Homo sapiens: one gene and its partners. The protein of the gene in region 3 purifies or fractionates together with the protein of the main gene of each other region. This does not show direct contact. Each region holds a gene or a part of one and is shown on either strand. Other genes may lie near its edges. The genes, in order: D2HGDH, THBS3, CCZ1B, PLEKHG7, KLHL14, KLK15 and DHFR.

The links.
Region 1: the proteins of CCZ1B (region 3) and D2HGDH purify together in Homo sapiens (co-immunoprecipitation; one large-scale study listed by IntAct). This does not show direct contact.
Region 2: the proteins of CCZ1B (region 3) and THBS3 purify together in Homo sapiens (co-immunoprecipitation; 2 studies listed by IntAct). This does not show direct contact.
Region 4: the proteins of CCZ1B (region 3) and PLEKHG7 purify together in Homo sapiens (co-immunoprecipitation; one large-scale study listed by IntAct). This does not show direct contact.
Region 5: the proteins of CCZ1B (region 3) and KLHL14 purify together in Homo sapiens (co-immunoprecipitation; one large-scale study listed by IntAct). This does not show direct contact.
Region 6: the proteins of CCZ1B (region 3) and KLK15 purify together in Homo sapiens (co-immunoprecipitation; one large-scale study listed by IntAct). This does not show direct contact.
Region 7: the proteins of CCZ1B (region 3) and DHFR purify together in Homo sapiens (co-immunoprecipitation; one large-scale study listed by IntAct). This does not show direct contact.

What each region holds. Positions count from the first base shown.
Region 1 is NC_000002.12:241,741,130-241,744,629, reverse strand, and holds part of D2HGDH (D-2-hydroxyglutarate dehydrogenase, mitochondrial isoform 1 precursor), read right to left. Parts: intron 2,196-3,500; coding exon 2,056-2,195; intron 1,009-2,055; coding exon 815-1,008; intron 1-814.
Region 2 is NC_000001.11:155,197,898-155,201,397, reverse strand, and holds part of THBS3 (thrombospondin-3 isoform 1 precursor), read left to right. Parts: intron 1-193; coding exon 194-304; intron 305-393; coding exon 394-501; intron 502-571; exon of another isoform or gene 572-698; intron 699-787; coding exon 788-947; intron 948-1,086; exon of another isoform or gene 1,087-1,226; intron 1,227-1,284; coding exon 1,285-1,403; coding exon of another isoform or gene 1,404-1,416; intron 1,417-1,541; coding exon 1,542-1,594; exon of another isoform or gene 1,595-1,600; intron 1,601-2,779; exon of another isoform or gene 2,780-2,795; coding exon 2,796-2,989; exon of another isoform or gene 2,990-3,054; intron 3,055-3,136; exon of another isoform or gene 3,137-3,177; coding exon 3,178-3,356; intron 3,357-3,469; coding exon 3,470-3,500. UniProt on the Homo sapiens protein: Adhesive glycoprotein that mediates cell-to-cell and cell-to-matrix interactions. Can bind to fibrinogen, fibronectin, laminin and type V collagen.
Region 3 is NC_000007.14:6,805,776-6,809,275, reverse strand, and holds part of CCZ1B (vacuolar fusion protein CCZ1 homolog B), read left to right. Parts: intron 1-3,238; coding exon 3,239-3,272; intron 3,273-3,500.
Region 4 is NC_000012.12:92,758,489-92,761,988, reverse strand, and holds part of PLEKHG7 (pleckstrin homology domain-containing family G member 7), read right to left. Parts: intron 238-3,500; coding exon 158-237; intron 1-157.
Region 5 is NC_000018.10:32,766,524-32,770,023, forward strand, and holds part of KLHL14 (kelch-like protein 14), read right to left. Parts: coding exon 3,122-3,500; intron 1-3,121.
Region 6 is NC_000019.10:50,827,682-50,830,574, forward strand, and holds part of KLK15 (kallikrein-15 isoform 4 preproprotein), read right to left. Parts: intron 2,884-2,893; exon of another isoform or gene 2,849-2,883; intron 135-2,848; coding exon 1-134. UniProt on the Homo sapiens protein: Protease whose physiological substrate is not yet known.
Region 7 is NC_000005.10:80,652,184-80,656,413, reverse strand, and holds the start of DHFR (dihydrofolate reductase), read left to right. Parts: upstream 1-1,430; 5' UTR 1,431-1,449; coding exon of another isoform or gene 1,450-1,686; 5' UTR 1,687-1,924; coding exon 1,925-2,010; intron 2,011-2,356; coding exon 2,357-2,406; intron 2,407-4,230. Other genes in the region: DNA mismatch repair protein Msh3, read right to left, coding at 1-3, 1,450-1,686.

The DNA of each region.
Region 1 (3,500 bases), on a different chromosome or scaffold from region 3:
TTCTGCAGCAGCCTGAGGTCATGCCAAGAGGCTGAAGGATGGACTTTCCTCCTGTACGAGTGACACCCTCCACACACAGCAGCTCACTGCCCAGGGGGCACGCCCGGGGTCGGGGGCAGTGGGGAGGCTCCCTGGGAGTAGGGCGTGAGCCCAGCCCAGGACCCAGCCACCTCTGGACCCACCAGCCATAAGGCATCAAAGCTCCCGAGCTGTGGGCCTCTCCGAGTCCTGTGTGCTGGTACTGTGAGTCGGAGGCCTACACAGCTCATGAGTGCAAAAAAGTAATTTACAATAAAGATAATCAGTGGCTGGCCAGAAAAAAAAGCTACTGAAGCGTCATAATTTACTGGATGGCACCAAAGCATGGTTTTGTGTTTGCTTCGTCCACTTGGGTAAACAGGACAGAGAGCTCTGCCTGTGACACTCGGCTGGTGAGGGTGCGGGTAAACAGAGGGGCCCTGGAGGAACAGTGGGCAGCAGAAGGTCACGAAGCTGACCCTGGATGAGCCTTCCTTCACACCCGGCTCCCAGAAGCCCACCACTGCCGGGGCGGTGTCCCCTGTAACTGCATCCTCTCTGTGTGGCCCCGAGGCAGTGGACACAAAATCACCCTCTCGTGGGAGGACAGGGCAGGGCCAGGCCTCCCTCAGGATGGGGGTGTATGTAGCCCACACATCCTTGAGGGGCCCAGGGCCAGGAACCAAGACCTCCCACCCCGAGGGGCCCCATGCACCTGTGCCACCACGTGGGCCCATGAGAGCCGTGAGAGGACACCCCGTGGCGACCTCTGCACCAAGCAGCTGCCCCAGCTCACCACTTCCAGGCCCAGGACAGTCCCATGCAGTGAGCCATATCGAAGAAACCGCAGGCCTCCAGCGTTGGTTGCCACGTTTCCCCCGATGTGGCAGCTGCCCTTGGCTCCTAAGTCCAGCGGCATGATGAAGTCCCGTTCCTCCACATACCGGCTCAGCTCCTCCAGGACGCAGCCCGCCTGGCAAACCAGAATTCCTGCAGAGAGTGACCAGGCTGCCGCAGCACTTGGCTTCCAGTGGGCCCCCGGGCTGGTGAGTCCCAACCCCCATCTTGCACAGGCAAGCCACCCAGAAGGAACATCAGCCTCAGCGCCAGGGCTGAGGAGAAGAGGCACCCCCACATCGCTGGCCCAAGGACGAAAACATCTGGGCCTCACAGGACCTTTATAATTATGGTGACACAAAAAAAAAATGAGTAACATGAAAAGAGAGGAAAAAACTTCCCACCCCCACACACACTCGTGGAAAGGAGTAGAAGAGGGAAGATTCTCAGCTGGGGCTGATCCTGCCCTGGGCATGTGGGACAATGCCTGGGTTGGGGGTGCCATGGGCACCTTGTAGGCGGAGGCCAAGGATGCTGCTCAACACCCAACAGTGCAGGCGCCCGACCACAGAGTGACCGGGGCCTGGAGCCCGGCCTTGCGGGGAGAGGCCCAGCTCCAGAGCAGGACCCTGGCGCCCTGGGTCAGGATCCCCTCATGCCTGCCACGCCCTGGCACCCTGGGTCAGGATCCCCTCACGCCTGCCACGCCCTGGCGCCCTGGGTCAGGATCCCCTCACGCCTGCCACGCCCTGGCGCCCTGGGTCAGGATCCCCTCATGCCTGCCACGCTCTGGCGCCCTGGGTCAGGATCCCCTCACGCCTGCCACGCCCTGGCGCCCTGGGTCAGGATCCCCTCACGCCTGCCACGCCCTGGCGCCCTGGGTCAGGATCCCCTCATGCCTGCCACGCCCTGGCACCCTGGGTCAGGATCCCCTCACACATGCCACTCTGCACCTCACACACCTCTAGAGCGGGATGGAGTCGGAAGGGACCAGAATGACAAGCCCTCACCAGCACGCATGTCTGGAGGGGCCGGGCGAGGTGGGGCTAGGCGGCCAGGCTACAGACGCTGGTTCTTTCCCCAGCGCCGGCCCTAACTCATTCACCCACCCAAGCACCCCACAGTTGCAGACGCTGGCAAGGAAGAACTCCACCAGCACCAGGAGGGACTCCTGGGCCCCGACGGGTGGCACAGGCTTACCAGACACGCTGTGGAAGCTGAGGACCCGGTTCATGCGGGCAGTGGAGAGGATGATCTCGTCAAAGACGGGGACGCTGCCACCCACCATGCCTGTGTTGCCCCCCTGTGGGTTCACGGCCAGGTTCCTCTCGTGGCAGTGCCTGGGATGAGGACAGGAGGGACGTTGGGGCTCTGTCCCCACCCCTACGCCACCATCCCCAAGGACACGCCGCAGGACCAGTGCCTGACTCCAAATCCTGATTACCCTGCCCTGCCTGCAGCCTCAGCGGGGGCTCCTCCCCAGCCCACGCATGTGAGGGATTCTGAGGAAGGACAGAGGCCAATCCGAAAGCTGTGCACAGGGAGACGGAAGTGGAGGCCCCGATTCTGACGTCCTACAAGGCTTCCCTCAAAGGACAGAACGTCCTACACGCCCGGCTCCCATCCTTCCCGTTCACACCATGCTCACAGAGGGTCCAGCTCAGGGTTCCTCGACCGCACTGCCCCCACTGCCTTCCACCCTCTGCCTGCATCTCCCCACCCTCGGCCCATTATCCCCCAGACGTGTGCCCAAGGATACCTCCCTCCCAACCAGCCTGCACCTTTGCAAAGCCCCAAAGCCTAGAGCACACCCAGTGGCTAGGGGTTTGGAGAAACCAAAGTTCCGTGCTCTGGGAAAAGGAATCTGCCCATGTACATGAAATAAACCCTGGAGACAGCAAGCCCCACACATGAAATAAACCCTGGAGACAGCAAGCCCCACACATGAAATAAACCCTGGAGGCAGCAAGCCCCACACATGAAATAAACCCTGGAGACAGCAAGTCCCACACATGAAATAAACCCTGGAGACAGCAAGCCCCATACATGAAATAAACCCTGGAGACAGCAAGCCCCATACATGAAATAAACCCTGGAGACAGCAAGCCCCACACATGAAATAAACCCTGGAGACAGCAAGCCCCATACATGAAATAAACCCTGGAGACAGCAAGTCCCACACATGAAATAAACCCTGGAGACAGCAAGCCCCACACATGAAATAAACCCTGGAGGCAGCAAGCCCCACACATGAAATAAACCCTGGAGACAGCAAGCCCCACACATGAAATAAACCCTGGAGACAGCAAGTCCCAGGGATGGAGTTTAACAGAGTAAGTGCACGTTGCCCCAAAGCACCTGCTGAGGATGATCTAAAGCACTGTCCACAGTCATGGACACCCGGAGACCAGTGCCACCCTGTAGTGTGTTCATGGGGGAGGAGCTTTGCTGTTACAGACAGTGCCAAGAAATGGGCATGGGCATTGCCAAATGGGGGGAAATGATTACACACCACAGATGCATTGAGATAGCACCGAAAAACCACAGAACAAACACTGAGACACACAAACCAAGATGTCATCGGCTGGCTTCGCACCGCGTCACCCCAGCTGCCCACAGGCTCCATGAGGAAATGACCCACAGGC
Region 2 (3,500 bases), on a different chromosome or scaffold from region 3:
TGGAAGGAAAAGGGAGGGTCTGGGGAAAGGAGTAGGGCTATGTTTAGGGCCTGGGTTGGGGGTCTTCATAGGAGAGAGGTGGGCCTGGGCCCAGGAACTGTTTGGTGGGGAGAATAGGACCTGAAGCAGGGAAAATATAGGGAGGAGGGGAGCCAGACCAAACTGCTAGCTCCTACCCTTTGTGTTGCCCTAGTGTAACGTGGGCTGGGCTGGGAATGGGAACGTGTGTGGGACTGACACAGACATCGATGGCTACCCAGACCAAGCACTGCCCTGCATGGACAACAACAAACACTGCAAACAGGTGCAGGGAGCAGGCGGGCAAGGGGGCGTAGTGGGGAGCCCAAGCTGGGTCAGGCCAGAACTCATCCATCCTCTTCCCCTGAACTTTAGGACAACTGCCTTTTGACACCCAACTCTGGGCAGGAAGATGCTGATAATGATGGTGTGGGGGACCAGTGTGATGATGATGCTGATGGGGATGGGATCAAGAATGTTGAGGTGACTCCCAGACTGCCCTGCCCCTTGAAGCTCCTCTCCCCTCCTCCTGTCCTCTCTGTGCCTCACTTACCTCATCTGGCAGCTCTCTAGTAAGGGCCAAATACTCCAAATCAGGGAGGCAAAAACCTCGTGCCCAGGACAAGGAGGCTGGGTGGGTGGGACTGTACTGAGCAGTTTGTCCATCACAAGGGTGTGATCTTAGAAAAGGATACAGAGACAAGGTAGGTGCAAGATGACAAGTGATTTAGGGGAGACCTGACCCTTCCCCTCCCACCCCTCTGCCCAGGACAACTGCCGGCTGTTCCCCAACAAAGACCAGCAGAACTCAGATACAGATTCATTTGGTGATGCCTGTGACAATTGCCCCAACGTTCCCAACAATGACCAGAAGGACACAGATGGCAATGGGGAAGGAGATGCCTGTGACAACGACGTGGATGGGGATGGTGCAGGCCTGGGGCTGAAGGGGTGGCTGGGGGACCTGTGAGAATTTGGATCAGGTGGGGATGAAGCAGGGAAGCTAGGAAGTCTCTGTGAAATAGGGAGGCAGGCTTGTGGACGTTGGCCTGGGTGAGGAGAGATTACCTGCAGCAGATGTCAATAGGAATGTGAGGTAGGGCGTAGTGTTAGGCAGAGTGTGGACTAGAGGGTGAGACAAGAAACAGGCAGATTTCCTGGCCAGTTGTCCTCTGGGTGGGGAGACAAAGTTCGGGACTTTCACCAACCTAGAAGAGAGAATATGGCATGTTCTAGTAACAACCTTGTGCTACCCATGTCTTCTAGGCATCCCCAATGGATTGGACAATTGCCCTAAAGTCCCCAACCCACTACAGACAGACAGGGATGAGGACGGGGTGGGAGATGCTTGCGACAGCTGCCCTGAAATGAGCAATCCTACCCAGGTACAGGGAGATGGTAAGGACAGGGGAGGGATGAGGGTACTGATGGATGAAGCCCCAGCCCTTTGGATGGAAAGTGGTCAGATCACCCTCTTCAGAGTTATCAAGAGGAGATGGTGAGAACAGGTCCCTCTCTCTCAGACAGATGCAGACAGCGACCTGGTGGGGGATGTCTGTGATACTAATGAAGACAGGTAAGGTCTTGGTCAAGAGACGCAAGGTCTTTCTTTTTTTTGTCTTTCTGAGACGGAGTCTTGCTCTGTCACCTAGGCTGGAGTACAGTGGCACGATCTTGGCTCACTGCAACCTCCGTCTCCCAGGGTCAAGTGATTCTCATGCCTCAACCTCCCTGAGTGGCTAGGATTACAGGCATGTGCTACCAAGCCCAGCTAATTCTTGTATTTTCAGTAGAGACAGGGTTTCACCATGTTGGCCAGGCTGGTCTCGAACTCCTTACCTCAGGTGATCCGCCAGCCTCTGCCTCCCAAAGTGCTGTGATTACAGGTGTGAGCCACTGTGCCAGCGAAATGCAAGGTCTTATAGGGGATATTTTACTTTCCTCTAGTATATCCTTTTTTTTTTTTTTTTGAGACGGAGTCTTGCTCTGTCGCCCAGGCTGGAGTACAGTGGCATGATCTCGGCTCACTGCAAGCTCCACCTCCCGAGTTCACGCCATTCTTCTGCCTCAGCCTCCCAAGTAGCTGGGACTACAGGCGCCTGCCACCACGCCCGGCTAATTTTTTGTGTTTTTAGTAGAGACGGGGTTTCACTGTGTTAACCAGGATGGTCTCGATCTCCTGATCTCGTGATTTGCCTGCCTCAGCCTCCCAAAGTGCTGGGATTACAGGCGTGAGCCACCGTGCCCGGCCTCCTTTTTTTTTTTGAGATGGAGTCTTGCTCTGTCACTCAAGCTGGAGTGCAGTGATATCGGCTCACTGCGACCTCCACCTCCAGGGTTCAAGCGATTTTCCTGCCTCAGCCTCCCGAGTAGCTGGGATTACAGGCGCGTGCTACCAAGCTCAGCTAATTTTTGTGTTTTTAGTAGAGACAGGGTTTCATCGTGTTGGCCAGGCTGGTCTCGAACTCCTGACCTCAGGTGATCTGCCCGCCTTGGCCTCCCAAAGTACTGGGAATACAGGCATGAGCCACTGTGCCCAGGCCATAGTATATTCTAAATTCCTTCTATGATTTAGCCTTAATTCTCTATTGCTATTCAGCAGGAATTTATTCTTACAGTCATCCCTCCATTCCTACTGCCAGACCTTCACCTCACCTGGCTGACTGCCAGGGGTCTGATTGTATGGAGAGCAGGCTCCAGAGACTCCCAGGCAGAAGCGAAGGGAAGGACAAGGAGTACCTTTAAATCCTTTATTTGGTACCTGTTCTTCTGATTAGCGATGGGGATGGGCATCAGGACACCAAGGACAACTGCCCACAGCTGCCAAATAGCTCCCAGCTGGACTCTGATAACGATGGACTTGGAGATGAGTGTGATGGGGATGATGACAATGATGGCATCCCAGATTATGTGCCTCCTGGTCCCGATAACTGCCGCCTGGTACCCAATCCCAATCAGAAGGACTCAGATGGTAAGCCTGCGGACCCAGAGCACGTTAGACTGGTGTTGCCTTTGCCCAGGTGGAGGCAGCAAGCCCTGTTGGGAAGTGAGGAAGGGCAAGGTGGGGAAAGATGTCAGGAATGCAGGCCCAACAGATGGTATTGTTGCCTAATGGCAGTGGCCAGGGCCTTCCTGAGCACCCAGCCTCACTCTGCCCAGGCAATGGCGTTGGTGATGTGTGTGAGGATGACTTTGACAATGATGCTGTGGTCGACCCCCTGGATGTGTGTCCTGAAAGTGCAGAGGTAACGCTTACGGATTTTCGGGCCTATCAGACCGTCGTCCTGGATCCTGAGGGTGATGCTCAGATTGACCCAAACTGGGTTGTGCTCAACCAGGTAACTCGGGGCAGTGGGCTGGGCAGGTGCTATCAGACAGGGCTACTGGGACGGGGGGCCTGGGAGGGATAGCACACCTGCATCACAGCTTTTTCTTTACTATACAACCCCAGGGCATGGAAATCGTTCAGACCATGAACAGTG
Region 3 (3,500 bases):
TCTCCAAGACCATCCTCACTTCTGACACCCACTGCGAGTTTGGGAGTCCCCGTGACCACCTTTAGGGTAAGAGTTCTCTAGAAGTACTACAGGACTCAGAAAAGGCTTTCTACAGCAGTACCCCCGAGCCAAAGGCCATGTGTTCCAAAACCCCCGGGAGGTGCCTGAAACCGGGGACAGTACCAAACCCTTCACTTGCTGTGTTTTTTCCTGTACATACATGCCTGTGATAATGTTTATAAATTCAGTACAGTAAGCGATTAATAAGGCTGGGCGCAGTGGCTCACACCTGTAATCCCAGCACTTTGGGAGGCCGAGGCAGGCAGATCACTTGAGGCCAGGAACTTGAGACCAGCCTGGCCAGTGTGGTGAAACCCTGCCTCTACTATAGATAGAAAAATTAGCCAGGCATGGTGGCATGCACATGTAATCCAAGTTACTCAGGAGGCTGAGTCAGGAGAATCTCTTGAACCTGGGAGGCGGAGGTTGCAGTGAGCCAAGATCGTGCCACTGCACTCCAGCCTGGACAAGAGTGAGACCCCATCTCAAAACAAGTAATAGTAATCATAATTGGACGATGACACTCTACTGCAATAAAAGTCATGTGAATGCGGTTTGCTTCCCCCTTCCCTCAATATTTTATTATACTGTCCCTCACATAACAGAAACCATGGGAAACAAAACCAGGGGGAAGGAAGAATGGCGGCACTCACAGCTGCGGTTTATTACAGTGGAAGAATACAGGTTAAAATCAGCCCGGGGAAGAGGCGTGTGGGGCAGGGCCCAGGAGCCACCAATGGAAGGACCAGGAGTCCTTCTATTTGCTTTAGGTTGGTTTGGGTTGGTTTGGTTTTTTGGGTTTTTGTTTTGTTTTTTGTTTTTTTTTTTTTTGGTTTTTTGGTTTTTGAGATGGAGTCCCACTCTGGTGTGAGCTTCCGGCTGTCCTCTCCCGTTGGGGTCATGTGGACAGCCCAGTGAGTGTTTCCCCATCGAGGATGTGTGGCTGTGTCTGTGGAGTGTTGACATCCAGGGAAGCTCACCTGAGCCTCGAGATCCAGAGATCTGATTGGGGGTTGGCCACAGAGACACAGCTGGCCCCACATGGCCAGCCTTAGTCTCCAGCCCTCCAGAGGTGGAGCGGGTGCTGTGCGGGCTTGGGTGTAAGGGATATTGGCCTGTAGTTTTGTTTTCTTGTGATATCTTTGGGCAATGCTGGCTTGATAAAATGTGTTGGGAAATGTTCCCTCCTATTTTTTTGGAAGACAGTGAAAAATTGGTGTTAATTCCTCTTTACATGTTTCATAGAATTCACAGTCAAGCTCTCTGCACCTGGGCTTTTCTTTGTGGCAAATTTTAAAGTTAACCATTTATGCCCAGTGTTCCATTATTGGAACACTAAGCTTGTGAGAGTTATTTATATCCTGCTGAAGGTCATTGCCAAGGTCTCATTTTTCACAAAAAAGATTTACAACCTCCAGCATAAATGGGTTAATCTCTGTACTTGTTACAGGTTTATTTTGATTTTGTTTCTTCTTGAGTCAGCTTTGGTAGTTTGTGTCTTTCTAGGAATTTGTCAGCTTCAATTAATTTATTTGATTTGTCGGCACGTGGTTTTTCATGGTATTGTAGGTAAAGCCGGATACTCCTTCGTTTTTCCTGTAAAGTCAGTAGTGATGTCTCCTCTTTCATTCCTGGTTTTAGTAATTTGAGTCTTCTCTCTTTGTTTCTTGTTGTATAGTCTAGCTAAAGGTTCTTCATACTTCTGGAATCTTCACAAGAAAAAGGAAAAGTTTTTCAATGTTGGGTCTTTTCAGAGAACAACTTTTGGTTTCATTTATTATCTCTGTGATTTTTCTCTGTTGAGTTTGTTTCTGCTCTCATGCTTTATTATTTCCTTCCATTTGCTTTAGGTTTGTTTGGGTTTTTTTGTTTTTGTTTTTGTTTTTTTTGAGACGGAGTCCTGCTCTGTCACCCAGGCTGGAGTGCAGTGGCACAGTCTCAGCTCACTGCAACCTCTGCCTCCCAGGTTCACATGATTCTCTTGCCGCAGCCTCCTGAGTAGCTGGGATTATAGGCGCACCACCACGCCCGGCTAATTTTTTTGTACTTTTAGTAGAGATGGGGTTTTGCCATGTTAGCCAGGCTGGTCTCAAACTCCTGACCTCAGGTGATCCGCCCACCTCGGCCTCCCAAAGTGCTGGGCTTACAGGTATGAGCCACCACACCCGGCCCCACTTGCTTTAGGTTTAGTTGACTCCTGTTGTCCAGGATCTTAAGACGAAAGGTCAGGTCACTGATTTGAGATCTTTCTTCTCTTGAGACAGGATCTCGCTCTCGGAAGTGGGAAGAGGTACTGGGGCAGGTGGGAATGTGAGTTCAGGAGCGGAGGCTGTGGCTGGTGGAAGGCGGCCAGCGGAGGAAATAGAATGCTATAAACCATAGAGGAGGAGGGGGAAGGCAGACGAGGGGTCACACCTGTCATGACATGAGCAGGAAGTCAGTACGATGCCCAAAGAGGATACGTTGAAGAGTTAGGATAACGCTGTTGTCTAATGACAGTGTAAAGTGGTTGCCGGGGAGGAGGGTCAGAGAACGAAATCTGTGGCTTTCATCATCAGGCCTGGTGTTCTGCTCAGCCTCTCTTAACCATACATTGCTTTGATAACTTTTAAACATTTTTGGTTATCTGTGGTCCTGGTTGTTGTCGGTTGCTAGGTCTAATGTCATAACTGTAATTACTTGCTATAATAAAGTGAGACAGGATGATATCCATTTGCTGTCTTTGTAAACGTGTGTCAATGGAAATCGTCACAGAATAATGGACAGTTTCTGCCAATTCTCTATTCTCTCTGGACTATACACAGAGAGATTAGAACAGTGAACCCCTAAGTCCCCATCACACAAGTGAATAAGATTCTGGTCTTCGTTGCTTCTCCATGTTGTGTTGTCGGGTTTGCAAGAGCATTTTAAGTCATCACGTCAGTCACGAACACTTCCCTGTGCCTCTCTGATGAGGACATCCGTGGTAACCTCCCCACTGGCGCTGTCACACCTGACAAGGTCAACAGCACTCCCCTCGCATCATGGAATGGGCAGTCTGTGTCCAGATGGCTCTAGTTGACCAAAAAGCAGCTTCTTACAGTTGACTTCTCCCCATTGACTTTGAACAGATTGTTATTATACGAAAGTCTCCTTTTTTCCACCATTTCATAACCTCTGGTTTGTTCTGTCTTCCCAGGCCATGAGTGCGGCTGTGTGCTTTATGATCGACGGTGGGTACGCGCCTTTGTCTGATTTCAGCCTAAGCTTTTTGTACTTTGCTGCATCCTATTCTTAAGTGATAAATATGTTTTGGGGGTTTCGGTTGTTTGGGGTTTTTTTGTTGGAGACGGGGTTTCACTCTTGGAGTGCAGTGGCATGATCATAGCTCACTGTAGCCTCGACCTCCTGGGTTCAAGTGATCTTCCCACCTTGGCCTCCTAAGTCGCTGGGACTGCCAG
Region 4 (3,500 bases), on a different chromosome or scaffold from region 3:
GACTAAAAAAGCCAATAGTTTATAATGCCTTCATTTTTTAGAGGAAAAGATTCAGCTTAAGAATATTTTATATTTTTACCACAGTTTATTTAGAAATATTTCTAAACTCATTTAGCAAACTTGTTTAGAAACGTACTTTGAAATAGCAGCATTTTACCTTTTTGTTGCACTTAGTTTTCGTAACTAAGAGGAAATCATTGAAGAGAAACAGATAAACATCTAGGAATCTCGTGCTTTCTGAGGAAAAAAAGAGAAGCTGAAATGGGGACCTGAAACTGTTAAGTAGAAGAGTTTTTCTTTCCCTTTCTTTCTTTCTTTCTTTCTTTCTTTCTTTCTTTCTTTCTTTCTTTCTTTCTTTCTTTCTTCTTTCTTTCTTTCTTTTTCTTTCTTTCTTTTCATTCTCTCTTTCCTTCCTTCCTTCCTTCCTTCTTTCTTTCTTTCTCTCTTTTTTTTAATCAATGAATTCCTTAGAAAACAAAACTGGGTGAGTATTACGGCACCCCAGGGGCTCCAATCATGTAGGTCAGAAAGCTGCCTGCCTCAATGTTGAATTGATTTCTTCCTAAAGCAGAGACTTGATGAGAGGCCAAGCTTCCAACATTAAAGACATTGAATTTATGATGCGTCTCATTTGAATCTAAGATAACTCAGATGTTATTTGTAGTGGCTTCAACTCAGCCGAGGGTAAATCTATCAACTGATTGAACTTGCAGCATTTTTGCCTCTAGATTCCTCTGGGTGGTTATTGGCAAAGGCACACATAACCAGAGAAAAGGCATTTTCTCACTGCTATGAATTATGCTATTGTGTCACTCAAATTTCATATGTTGAAGCCCTAAACCACTAGGGTGGCTGCATTTGGAGTAAGAAAGTAATTAGGGTAAAATGAAGTGATAAGGCTGGTGCACTGATCCAGTAGCATTAGTGTTCTTTGAGACACCGGATACCTCCACCCTATCCCCCACTCCTTGTCTTGAAGAGAGCGCTCATCAGGAACTGAATTTGCCATCACCTTGGCCTGGGACTTTTCAGCCTCCAGATTGTAAGACATAAATTTCTGCTGTTTAAGTCAGCCTGTCTGTGATATTTTGTTATGGCGGCCTAGGTTGACAGTCATTAAAACTACTTATTTCTCAAGTTTTAGAAAGTGTCTATAAATGTTTAGATATTCTCCATCTGTTTCATATTTACAAACTTTTCTGATATTAGTTTTAATAGTTACTTAAGGCAAATAGCTTTTCTTTAGTTTTCCCTAAGAAGGGAATAGTAGTAGAAGAGAAACCAAGTATCAGAATAAGGCATCTCCTTCCTTATTTTACTCTATCCCTTAGAAATTAGAAAAAAGGGTTAAATTTAAGTGATTTCAGAGGAAAAGGTTTTTAGAGGGAGATGTGACAAGTGCTTAGAGTAATCATAGGAAAACCCAGTAAATTTTTTTCAGCTTGTTCTATTTAGATTATATATATATATTGTTCTAGAAGTTCTTTCTTATATGTTTTTACCCCTAGAAGATTTAAAGTAGTAGCTAAAACATTTAGGATTCATTTCTATCTCCTCTCATTCTTTAAGTTTAGAGAAAAGATTTTTTCTATATTTGCATAGGGGAGAAATCTGGTATTTTATTCAAATTAAATAGTCCTTGAATAGTTTTTTTAAAAATCATATTAAAAACTTAACTTTTCATAAATCAAGTTGTGGCAAAGACTTCTGGTTGTCCCTTGAAAACCATTCTCCCCTTCTCTTGTAGCAGTAGAATCCCCAAGTTTTAGTGAGTACCCATCCTCAGAGAACAGAGACTACATTTCCTTGCTGCTGAATATGACCAAGGAGCTAAATTCTGACCAATGGAATGTGAGCCAAAGCATGCAACTTCTGAGTCATATTCGTGAAGGGCAGGGCTAAGCTCTCTTGTCTCTGTCTCTCCTTCTCACTGGGTAGAATACAGACATATTGGTGAGTCATCTTGGGCCACACAGAAGAAGGCAGTTCCCTAGATTTGGGAATAAGACAGCAGGAATCTGGATTCCTAATGACTTCATGGAGTGGAGTTGTCATATAGGTTGAGACTTAACAAGAGAGAAATAAACTATCTTTTTTAACCTGTCCGTCTCCAGTGGCTGAATCTATATGCCAACTGATATACAGGGCTAGGAATGGTACAGCACTAGACCTGTGAACAGCCAGCTGAGCCTGCCATAGCAAAATACCACAGACAGGGTGGCTTAAGCAATAGGAATTTATTTCTCACAGTTCTGGAGCCTGGGAAGTAGATCAAGGTGCTGGTCGATTCAGTTCCTGATAAGGGCTTTCTTTTTGGGTTTCTGCATGTGTTCTTACATGGCAAACAGAGAGAGTGAGCTCTCTGATGTCTGCTCTGATTAGGATACTAATCCTATCAGATCAAGGCTCCAGCCTGAGTCCCTCATTTTACCTGCATTTCTTCCTTATTCCAAGTATAGTCATACTGGACATTAAGGCTTCAACATGTGATTTGTGGAAGAACACAATTCAGTCCACAGCAATGGAAGAACACAATTCAGTCCACAGCAACCTTCAAACCTGTAAAATTTGCTATTCCCATCTTCTGCTACTCATGTATGCGTCAGCTCAATGATCATTGTCAAAATGAAATAGTTTTGTTTTCTCCTTCTAATTTCAACTATTTTATTTTGACAAACAGGCAGGGAGCACACCTTCTACGTATTCCAGATGTTATTCTAGATAATGTTACAGACATTATTCTAGAAAGTGGTAATTATTTTATCTACCATTTATTGAGGCCCTAGTTTTCCACCAAGTAAGTTATGAAACAAATTATGAAAATGTGTACCTTCTGGGAATGAGAACATATACTTATTTGATTATAAGAGTACAGTTTTTAAGGCTGGGAGAAATTTGGAAACACAGTATGTGTTAGGTTTCATCACATCATTTTCATCCTCATTGTCATCATCATTATCAGCAGCAGCAATAACATTTATAAAAGAGAATAAGAGAATTTAAATTTTCCCAAAGCCTACAATTGGTGCTAGATCCCCTGACTGTTGGTTCAATGCTTTTTTCATTTAAAATGATGTCCTGTTTCCTCACTTGATCTTAGCCAAAAGACCAAGAAGTGAAATGTCCTGTTTCTTCTAACACTATCACCCTGCCCCATCAAATCTCGATGCTCAACTCTGAGTCCAGTCTCAGGACTTTGCACTTGGCTTGATGCCATGTAGACTACATCATATGGAGTCTCCATCTCTGATGGAATTTGACTAATACAGCATATGCCATTAAACAAGTGCCTGGTGTTAGTGACATTATGTAGTTCATGTCCATACTACCACATTTGACTGTACAAGAAGCATTTTCTGGAAAAGTTGAGTCTGTTTGTAAAGAGTCTTTCTTAGGTGAGCTTCCAACCCATACATCTATGACAGTCACTTTGAACCCATGCGATGCATGAATTCACATCTGACTTAGACTTTCACCCACCAGGAGCTGCTCCTCCAGCT
Region 5 (3,500 bases), on a different chromosome or scaffold from region 3:
TTTGAAATATGTAATACTTTTTTACTAACTGTGGTCACGTTGCTGGTGCAATAGATCACTAAAACTTATTCTTCCCGTCTAACTGAAACTTTATATCCTTTGTCAATCCTGTCATCTTAAATTACTTATGTGTGTATTTGAATACAGAGTGACAAGTTTCTTATTTTACTTATTGTCCTTATGTTAAGTTTGGTAAAATGGAATATGAATTTAAGTGCAACTGGTATACTTAGAAAAACCAAGCAACAAGAGGGAACATTTTATATTAATTTGAGTATTTGTATAAAGATTTCATACTTGGGTTCCTTTACTTTTCTAGGCTTAATGAAAACTCAAAATTAATAATCTTTAAAATGCTTAAATTATGATTATATTAATATCTCTACTTTCTATAGATAATATACTCTTAAACAAGTAAATTCTCTTTTGAAGTTATTCTATTTGCTTATACTTTGTACTTATTCCAAAAGACTGGTCAATTTTACATTTTCATCTCCTTCTCTGAATTTAAGAAACTCTTTTATATTTAGAGTTTAAAAACTACAGGTGGATAAAAAGTAATAAATACAAGGTCCTTCTATTCAATTGTCTTCAATGAAAGTGATGTAATCTCAAAAACAATTGGTTAACACATTTATCCCCGTTAAATGACACATAAGGCTAAGGGAACATTTTTATATTACACTGATGCTATAATAAATGGGCTGATTTAATATTGTTGGTTGCAACTTACAGCATTTCTGTCTACTTTAAAGTTAGGAACTTCATGGTTATTTTGGCATTCTTCCTATGAATTACAATTAAAATAATGTAATTAGTCTGTAAAATTCAAAATGCTACCTTTACTAATAAAGGAATAAAACCTAAATTATATTACTTTGAGGTCAATGATAGGTTCGCATGAACTATTTGCTTTTCTATATCTTTCTCTTTTAAAAGAAAATACAGTTTTCTTCCTACTGCAGAAGTATCAGATTCTTGCAGCATCCATGACACTTGTAAGCATTCAGTGGTCAGACACCACTACATATCCTTCAAATGATGTGGCCCAGTGAAGCTGGAGGGTGTCGTCACGGAGCCAGGCAGCCTGGTATCTCAGCCATCCACCAGGACAGAGCCAGCAGGCACTAGCTGGTGTGCTGAATCTTGACTAAAGTGGGAAATGGATTTTGCATTTTGAAAGTCAACTCTTCTAACATTGAACCTTAGGACATACCTGTTAGATAAAAGTGCATTGAGGGCTTCAGAAATTTACTGGATCAAATTTATAAAGCTCCTCTGCCAAAATTACTCTTAGAATAAGTTAAATCTTAATTTTATTATTCCTCTGGGTTTCTGAATTTATACCGTGTTATACATATTTTTAAAAGTATGAGTAAATGTATGTTCAGAACTATAACTGTGTTGTCTGAATTATTGACTATGTGTGATATATGCTAAATGAAGTATACTTGTAGGTCATTTAAAAGTGACAAAAATTTAAATCACAGAATATTAATCACCAAGGCCCATCGCCCATCACACTGAGTTTGCCATTTGGATCTTTAGACAAACGAAAAATTCCAATAAAATAAAAATACGTTTCATGTTTTTTTCCTCATTGGCCTCTTGTGCTCACTGTTAAAAGCACACGGGGATTTGGATTCTTGTTTCTTCTATTGTCCTATTATCATCTTTTGACAACACGATTCGTTAACTCATCTCCCACAGATGTTAGAAAAATGAACTTACAGGGTTTTGTTACAAGTTCAAGATTTCTCATGCCTCCTGTTGGCCTCTCCTTAACACAAGAGCTGCCTAAAAAAGTGTAGAGAGTATCTTCCATTTCTTTAAACTTTAGTTACCTAGGTCTGGTGGAAACATAATGACACACACACACACACACACACACACACACACACACACACACCATTTAATTCTATAAGGCTGCACAAGGTGGGCCCCATTCTTTAGACATCATTCTGACTGGGAAAATGCCCTGCTAGATTTTCAAACCATGTACTTTGCTACACTTTGTAACACTTTGGTGGTTAGGCTGGAGTAGCCTGGCATCTGGAATCATGATGTTTTATCATGAGAAACTGAGAGGATACTGTTTCTCTTTTCTAAAAAGAGAAAGAAACCCTTTGCTAGGGCTCATTAAAAATGGTTTTAAAATTGGAGCCAATAAAACACGATTGTCAATTCCTACAGCCTTTTTATCTCAGCAGCATTTTTAAAAGGCATCATTTCTCTCTCCCCTGAAATCCTACTTGCAACACACACAGCCACATTTCTAACTAGCAACAACAGAGGCAGCAGCAACTCTCCAACTTCTTTGTCACTGGTGAGCAGGCACACAGACCAACTGGAGCTAGAAGCCTCTCCACTCCTCCATCCCAATTTTCAAGTGCACTCTTCTCAGAAATGGGAGTTGCTAGGCAAGATTCACCCCATCACCCTGAAATCTCTTGCTTTACTCTCCTTTAAAAGTGAAAAGGAAAGGCTTTCCACAACATAGAAAAGTTTGCCTGGGCACATGATACCAGCATTTCCAATAGTGACCCTAATAGACAAAGCATTTTGGAGTTCTGACATCGACAGGGAGCAGATCCCAGTCATGAAGAAACAACTTGAGTGTGTGACGGCAAGACCATGAAAGCCTTCCTTTGCAAGCATCGCCTGGGCTCTTCTGCTCACCCAAGGCAGAACTGAGGAGGGGTGGGGTGGGCATTCCTCACCACAGGATCCTTTTTCTTGAGCAAGCCCATCTTAAGATTTGTAGGGAGAGCTGGCTTAGAGAGACTTCCAAAGCTACACTTCTAACTGTCCTGGCCTTTGGCCCCATCTGCCTGTCAATTTCAGTCTGAGTCCACAATTCCCATGTTTACGGCTCTGGGGATATCTAGAACCTCGGCTTTGGAGCGCTCAGGGATGCTGCTAGGCCAGTTCCCTATTGACCTTTCAGGGACTCTGAAATCAACTTTCCTCACACACTCTGAATTGTTTGCGTTTGTTTTCATCCTGCCAGAGCCACCCGCCCAGGCCACCCATCTCTTCCCTCCTCCCTGCCCCCTCCCCTCCCTCCGGCCTCTCTGGCTCTACCCCCCCCTCCCCCGCCCTCCTCTTTGTTGTCTCCTACCTGCTGGCCAGGCTCTGCCTGCAGTGCTGCCTGAAGGGCATCAGGTGGTAGTTCATGGCGTCCAGCAGCAGCTTCTGGCAGACCGGGTCGGTTCGCATGAAATCCACTGACTGGACCCGCTCCACCAGCTCCGGGGCCGGGATGAGGGCGAAGCGGAGGCGCTTCATGAGGTCAGGCGCATACTGCATGCGGGTCTCGCGGTCGTGCTCCAGCCACAGCACGGACATCTGGAAGAGCGCCAGCTCCGACTCCACGGGGGGCGGCAGCGAGTCCAGCAGGGCGCGCATCTCCTCGAAGTTGAGCAGCAGCACATCCTCCACCAGGTACTTGTTGGCCAGCTTCTTGGTCTCCTCCAGGCCGTGCAGCGCGGCGATCTTGC
Region 6 (2,893 bases), on a different chromosome or scaffold from region 3:
AGACAGCACCCAGTGTGGGGAGATGAGGGAAGCGCCACAGTTAAAGCGTCCACGCTCGTAGAGAGCCACTTGCCATGGCTGGGAGTGGGGTGCACACTCGTCACCTTCCAGCAACTTGTCACCATCCTGGGCTGCTAAGAGAAGGGGTAGAGGATGCCTGAGGACAGGGACGTTTACATTGCCTCCTACACCTTCCTTGCACCCTGCCCTAACTACTATATGCCTATGCCTTTCCCCTAACTTCTCAAGACACCCTGCCCTGTTTTTGTTTGTTGTTGTTGTTGTTTTTGAGACGGAGTCTCACTCTTTTGCCCAGGCTGGAGTGCAGTGGCATGATCTCAGCTCACTGCAACTTCCGCCTCCTGGGTTCAAGTGATCCTCCTGCCTCAGCCTCCCGAGTAGCTGAGGTGCCCGCCACCACACCTGGCTAATTTTTGTATTTTTAGTAGAGACGAGGTCTCACCATGTTAGCCAGGGTAGTCTCAAACTTCTGACTTCAAATGCTCTGCCCGCCTCAGCCTCCCAAAGTGCTGGGATTACAGGTGTGAGCCACCATGCTCCGCCTGCCCTGTTGTTTATTTACAACCGCTGCCTGTTTTCTCCAGAACTCTAGCCCCCACCCCATTTGCTATAAGACTCTGGGAGAGAGAGGAAGGGGAACAGACCAGAGGGCAAGAAGTCCTCTGTGGTTGGGGGTGGAGACAGGGGCACTGGATACAGGTTCAGACAGGTGGTCACTTGAAACCAGTCATTCACGGTCACCAAATTGTCACAGACGTCAAACGCATGTGGCCACTCAGTATGTGTGACCCAGCCTTGGCCCCAGAGTCTGGACATGTCAGCCAAATTCAGTGTGCAGTATGAGTCCCAGATGTGGCTATACAAGGTCATGGACATGCATACATGCACATCCAGCTTCCACACTTAGGTACAGCTATGGACAGGACTGGAAGCTGAAATTCACTTGCATGCACATGGGTTGCAGCTTCAAGAATCACAGCACAGGCTGGGCACGGTGGCTCATGCCTGTAATCCCAGCACTTTGGGAGGCCGAGGCGGGTGGATCACCTGAGGTCAGGAGTTCGAGACCAGCCTGGCCAATATGGGGAAACCCTGTCTCTAACAAAAATACAAAAAATTAGCTGGGCATGGTGGCGGGTGCCTGTAATCCCAGCTACTCTGGAGGCTGAGGCAGGAAAATCGCTTGAACCCGGGAGGCGGAGATTGCAGTGAGCGGAGGTTGCTCCATTGCACTCCAGCCTGGGTGACAAGAGTGAAACTCCATCTCAAAAAAAAAAAAAAAAAAAAAAAAAGAATCACAGCACAGATGTTCATATGTGTATATGAATATGGATGGTTAAGACATGAATACATACACACACACACATGCACACACAAACACACACACAGAATTGGATATTGTTCAGACCTAAATTCAACATCTCTAGTGTGAGTCTTGGCATCCAGTGTCACAGACACTTGCATACAGGGTCTGGACAAAGATGGGTCCTTAAGCCTGGGTTCGAATGTACTAGCTGTGAAACTTTGAGTAAGTTATTCGACCTGTCTGTGCCTCTGTTTCCTCATCTGTAAAATGAAGATTGTTGTAAGGATGAGGTAGGAATGTGTATGTGTGTGTGTGCATGTGTGTATGTATGGTGAGTGATACCTAGCCCTGGTAGCTACTTAATAATATTAGTTGTTTTTTGCAAATGACACCTGGATTTAGTCACAGGGACATACGTGTGAAAGTTCAGGTCCATCCTGGAGATGGCCAACATAAGTCAGACATCTGCACAGAATTACCTATAATAAATAGTCAAGGTTGGCCAGGTGTGGTGGCTCACGCCTGTAATCCCAGCACTTTGGGAGGCCAAGGCCGAGGTGGGTGGATCACCTGAGGTCAGGAGTTTGAGACCAGCCTGGCCAACATCGTGAAATCCCGTCTCTACTAAAAAATAAATAAATAAATAAATAAAAATACAAAAATCAGCTGGGCGTGGTGGTGCGTGCCTGTAATTCTAGCTACTCGGGAGGCAGAGACAGAATTGCTTGAACCTGGGAGGCGGAGGTTGCAGTGAGCTGAGGTTGCACCACTGAACTCCAGCTTGGGCGGCAGAGCGAGACTCCGTCTCAAAAAAAACCAAACAAACAAAAAAAAGTCAAGGTTAAAACCGTGATTCACCCACAAGACATTTTGTAGAGTTAGAGCTGCAGACACCAACCCAGAAGGCCAACACTCAGATGTGGACTTGCTGTCTGGGGCAGCACCCAGACACGGGGCTGGGCATTCAAGGTCAAAGACATGCAGCTGAAGCCAGAGGCAGCCAGGGCAGGACATATTTATCCATCTCTAGATCAGCCCCCAAGCCAGATCTGTGGAGTCACTGATTGGGTTTCACATATGGGGATCTGGCTCATGCATGTGGAGAGGATGTGAACATACAGGGCCTTGTATACCCACTGCACACGTGCATGTACACACACACACACACACACACACACAGAATGGCATTATGCTTAAGGACATGATTAGAGACATTCAAGGTCACAGGACCAGGACCCCTCTCCACTGGGCAATGTGGATGCATCCCCTGAAGGTTGAAGCCATGCACACTCCCACCCACACAGGGGCAGGATTTGCACAGCCAGACCAAATGCCCACACTCTCCCCATCACAGTCAGGAACTGGGCCAAAGGCCCCCGTGAGACCAGGGGAATGCGGATGTGGTGGACAAGGGGCTTAACAAAGGAAGGGTGAGGTCGTCCTCCGAAGGGCGGAGGGTACGGGCTGAACAGCTGGGCACCGAGGCTGCACCTGGCCAGTCCAAGCCAGAGGAAGGTGGAGGCCCCAGCTGGGCGCAGCAGGCAGGCGCGAGGCAGGTAGGTGAGT
Region 7 (4,230 bases), on a different chromosome or scaffold from region 3:
AGCCTATATCGGGAAGGTTAGAAAATGATGTGTTATCTCTACTCTGAGAAGGCCTGACGTATGTGAAGCAATTTAAACCTTACAACTGAATGACAAGGTTCCTTGCCATCCACTCTTCAAAGAATCCTCTACTTTTAGCTCTGGAAAACCCTATGGGTGAACTGTTTTTAACACCATAAAAGACAAGGTAGAGTCTGATAGTCAGGAGCCTCAGCAACTCAAGCCGTGTTTAGAATTAATTGAAACCAAGGCTGCTACCGGTCTTGATTCAATGAGCCTTCAGCTTTCTCTAATTATAAAACTTGAATCACCCTACTTACATATGCTAAATAAAATACCTCTAAGAAATAAACAGTTATGTAGCAAAGGCACAGAGGGGAAAAGATAGGTAATAAAAGAACAGTATCATTTTTGACATGTTCACTGCAATTTAAGTGTTTCCTGTTTAAAAGGTTTATGTTCATCACTAAAGATGTGACAAGATTATGAATTTTTTCTTGGCAGAAAACTTGCCAAAAGCATACATAAGTCCTTCACCAGCTACCCTTTAAATGGTGGGTGCAAAATTTTGGTGAATTCATGAAAACGTAGCTCGTCCTCAAAAAAAACAGAAGAGGAGTAATCATTTTAAGGGAGAAATATATACGAAAGGAACAAGATTTTGAAGCACCCAAGCTGCCACCTACATTAAAACACGGTAGGTGGCTAAACACCAGTCTTCAATGCCCTTCCACAGCCTCAATCTGAAAAATACTGTGCAGGTGACCCAAGTGAGGGGTCACCCTTGGGCTTTTCCTGTGGCAGTATCTCTGGTTTAAAAACAAACAAACGTACTTATTGCGTTGAAGGATGGCAACAGGAAGGACTCCATGATTAGTCACATCTATACCATCCTAAGAAACTTTATCCACCCAAACTGTATTTCAGACTTTATAATCTAAACTACAAAAAGAGTTCACTGGGGAACTGCACAATATGACTGCTTTTAACCGTAGTGATTTCAAATATTGAGCCATGCTGTTGCAGTCTTAAAAACTGGAGACCTAAGGGCAGCTTTCTTCTAGTCACCCAATCCAGCACTTTTTTAAAAAATCAGTAAAACTCTTCGACCACCAAGGAAAAAAAAAAAGGATGGAGGTTAAAAGACGCACCCCTTGCCCACAAGCCCCCTCATCAGAATGGGAGTCAGGAGACCTGAGTTCCTGTCTCAGGCCTGCCATTAAAAACCTGCATAACCTTTGCCTATCTCCTCAAACGGAAGTACTAAAACCTCAGCGCTTCACCCAATTTGTAGCCCCGGCTGGGCTCTTCCCACCTTCCCCTTCTTCAGCCCGCCCCTTCCTCCTCCAGCCCTATCATCGGGCGGAGGGTCCCCGCCTCCGCCCGCCTTACCCACAAGCCCCGCCCCCCCAGCCCCGATGGCCCTGCCCAGTCCCAGACAGAACCTACTATGTGCGGCGGCAGCTGGGGCGGGAAGGCGGGAGCTGGGGGCGCTGGGGGCGCTGCGGCCGCTGCGGCCGCTGCAGCCGCTGCAGCGCCAGGGTCCACCTGGTCGGCTGCACCTGTGGAGGAGGAGGTGGATTTCAGGCTTCCCGTAGACTGGAAGAATCGGCTCAAAACCGCTTGCCTCGCAGGGGCTGAGCTGGAGGCAGCGAGGCCGCCCGACGCAGGCTTCCGGCGAGACATGGCAGGGCAAGGATGGCAGCCCGGCGGCAGGGCCTGGCGAGGAGCGCGAGCCCGCGGCCGCAGTTCCCAGGCGTCTGCGGGCGCGAGCACGCCGCGACCCTGCGTGCGCCGGGGCGGGGGGGCGGGGCCTCGCCTGCACAAATGGGGACGAGGGGGGCGGGGCGGCCACAATTTCGCGCCAAACTTGACCGCGCGTTCTGCTGTAACGAGCGGGCTCGGAGGTCCTCCCGCTGCTGTCATGGTTGGTTCGCTAAACTGCATCGTCGCTGTGTCCCAGAACATGGGCATCGGCAAGAACGGGGACCTGCCCTGGCCACCGCTCAGGTATCTGCCGGGCCGGGGCGATGGGACCCAAACGGGCGCAGGCTGCCCACGGTCGGGGTGGCCGACTCCCGGCGAGAGGATGGGGCCAGACTTGCGGTCTGCGCTGGCAGGAAGGGTGGGCCCGACTGGATTCCCCTTTTCTGCTGCGCGGGAGGCCCAGTTGCTGATTTCTGCCCGGATTCTGCTGCCCGGTGAGGTCTTTGCCCTGCGGCGCCCTCGCCCAGGGCAAAGTCCCAGCCCTGGAGAAAACACCTCACCCCTACCCACAGCGCTCCGTTTGTCAGGTGCCTTAGAGCTCGAGCCCAAGGGATAATGTTTCGAGTAACGCTGTTTCTCTAACTTGTAGGAATGAATTCAGATATTTCCAGAGAATGACCACAACCTCTTCAGTAGAAGGTAATGTGGGATTAAGTAGGGTCTTGCTTGATGAAGTTTACCAGTGCAAATGTTAGTTAAATGGAAAGTTTTCCGTGTTAATCTGGGACCTTTTCTCTTATTATGGATCTGTATGATCTGTATGCAGTTCCCAAGGTTCATTTACCATTATTAAAAAATTTTTGTCTTAGAAATTTTATGTATGTCAACGCACGAGCAAATTATCAGGCATGGGGCAGAATTGGCAGCTGGGTGGAGGCTTCGGTGGAGGTGAGCACTCCGAAAGGAAAACAGAGTAGGCCTTTGGAACAGCTGCTGGAAGAGATAAGGCCTGAACAAGGGCAGTGGAGAAGAGAGGGTAAAAATTTTTTAAGGTTACATGACCCTGGATTTTGGAGATCTCGAATTTAAAGGTGATGCACCAGGGATGAACGCTCAGATTTTCAGTTTGAAAGCTGGCGTGACATGTAAAGGAGTGGAGAATAATGTACCATTGTAATGATGAGGCGCCTCTAGGACATCTAGGATAATTTCAGGCGTGGGGATCTAGGTGAATTGAACTGTTGGAGGGAAGGGAATAACCAAGGAAAAGAATGTGGGGGTTGAGAGATGCCCCGTTTAAAACCTAAGAGACCTGGATATTTATGGTTGTAAGAGGAGGCATGGCAGAGGAAATGGAAACAGTAAGAAAGGAGCAGATGCTGCATCTCTTTAATGGGACAGATACAAGGCATTTGGGTTTGACACTTAGGTCACTGGTAGAGATGATGACAAGAGCCCGTAGCTAAAGAATTGATAAAAGCCAGTCTCAAAAATCCCAATATAGTCTGGTAATGTTAATGTTTCTTTGGTTCAGATAGCTGACTCTCAAAGTTATTTTCCTAAGAAACTGAACCAAAAGTGGACGCTATATGTAAAAAGTTTTTATAGAAGTGTTATAAGAGTAGGATAGAGACATAATTAAACATGTTTTAAGGTAATTGAGTGGAACATTAAGCACCTATTTTTAAAAGTATGATTTAATATCAATCTACAAAGTACACAAATATAATACAATTGTATCAGACAGTTGTGACAGCACTGATTAGAGGCTGAACATTATTCTAAGTCTTTAATTCCCACAACAACCCTAGAAGCAGGAACTATTGTTATCTCTATTTTATAGATAAAGTAAACCACAAGGGGTTAACACGTTTTGTCTTGTGGGTGACAAAATGCATTCAACTTGAGCACTTTGACTCAGAATCTTTTTTTTTTTTTTTTTTAAGAGGGAGTCTTGCTCTGTCGCCCAGGCTGGAGTGCAGTGGCGCGATCTCCGCTCACTGCAAGCTCCGCCTCCCGGGTTCACACCATTCTTCTGCCTCAGCCTCCTGAGTAGCTGGGACTACAGACGCCTGCCACCACACCTGGCTAATTTTTTGTATTTTTAGTAGAGACGGGGTTTCACCGTGTTAGCCAGGATGGTCTCGATCTCCTGACCTCGTGATCTGCCCATCTTGGCCTCCCCAGAATCTTTACTATGTCATACACAATTGCAAATGATTAAAACTAAATATTGGATATAAATTGGATAATGCCAAAGGGAAAAATAGTTAGATTTAGGTAATGAGTGATAAGTATGAATTTTGGTAAGACTTTTAAGTTCAGTTTTTTAAAGGAGATCTCTGCCAAACCCCAAAAACAAAGAGCCCTAACATCAGCCTAACCAGATTTCAAATTTCATCTTTTGGCGGTATGCATTTTTAACAGTCACCCCTCAACTAACACATCATCCTCCCTCAACTCACATTCTACTAACCCCATCAATGCAACTCCCTGCCCACCTTACTCAACATATACACCGCT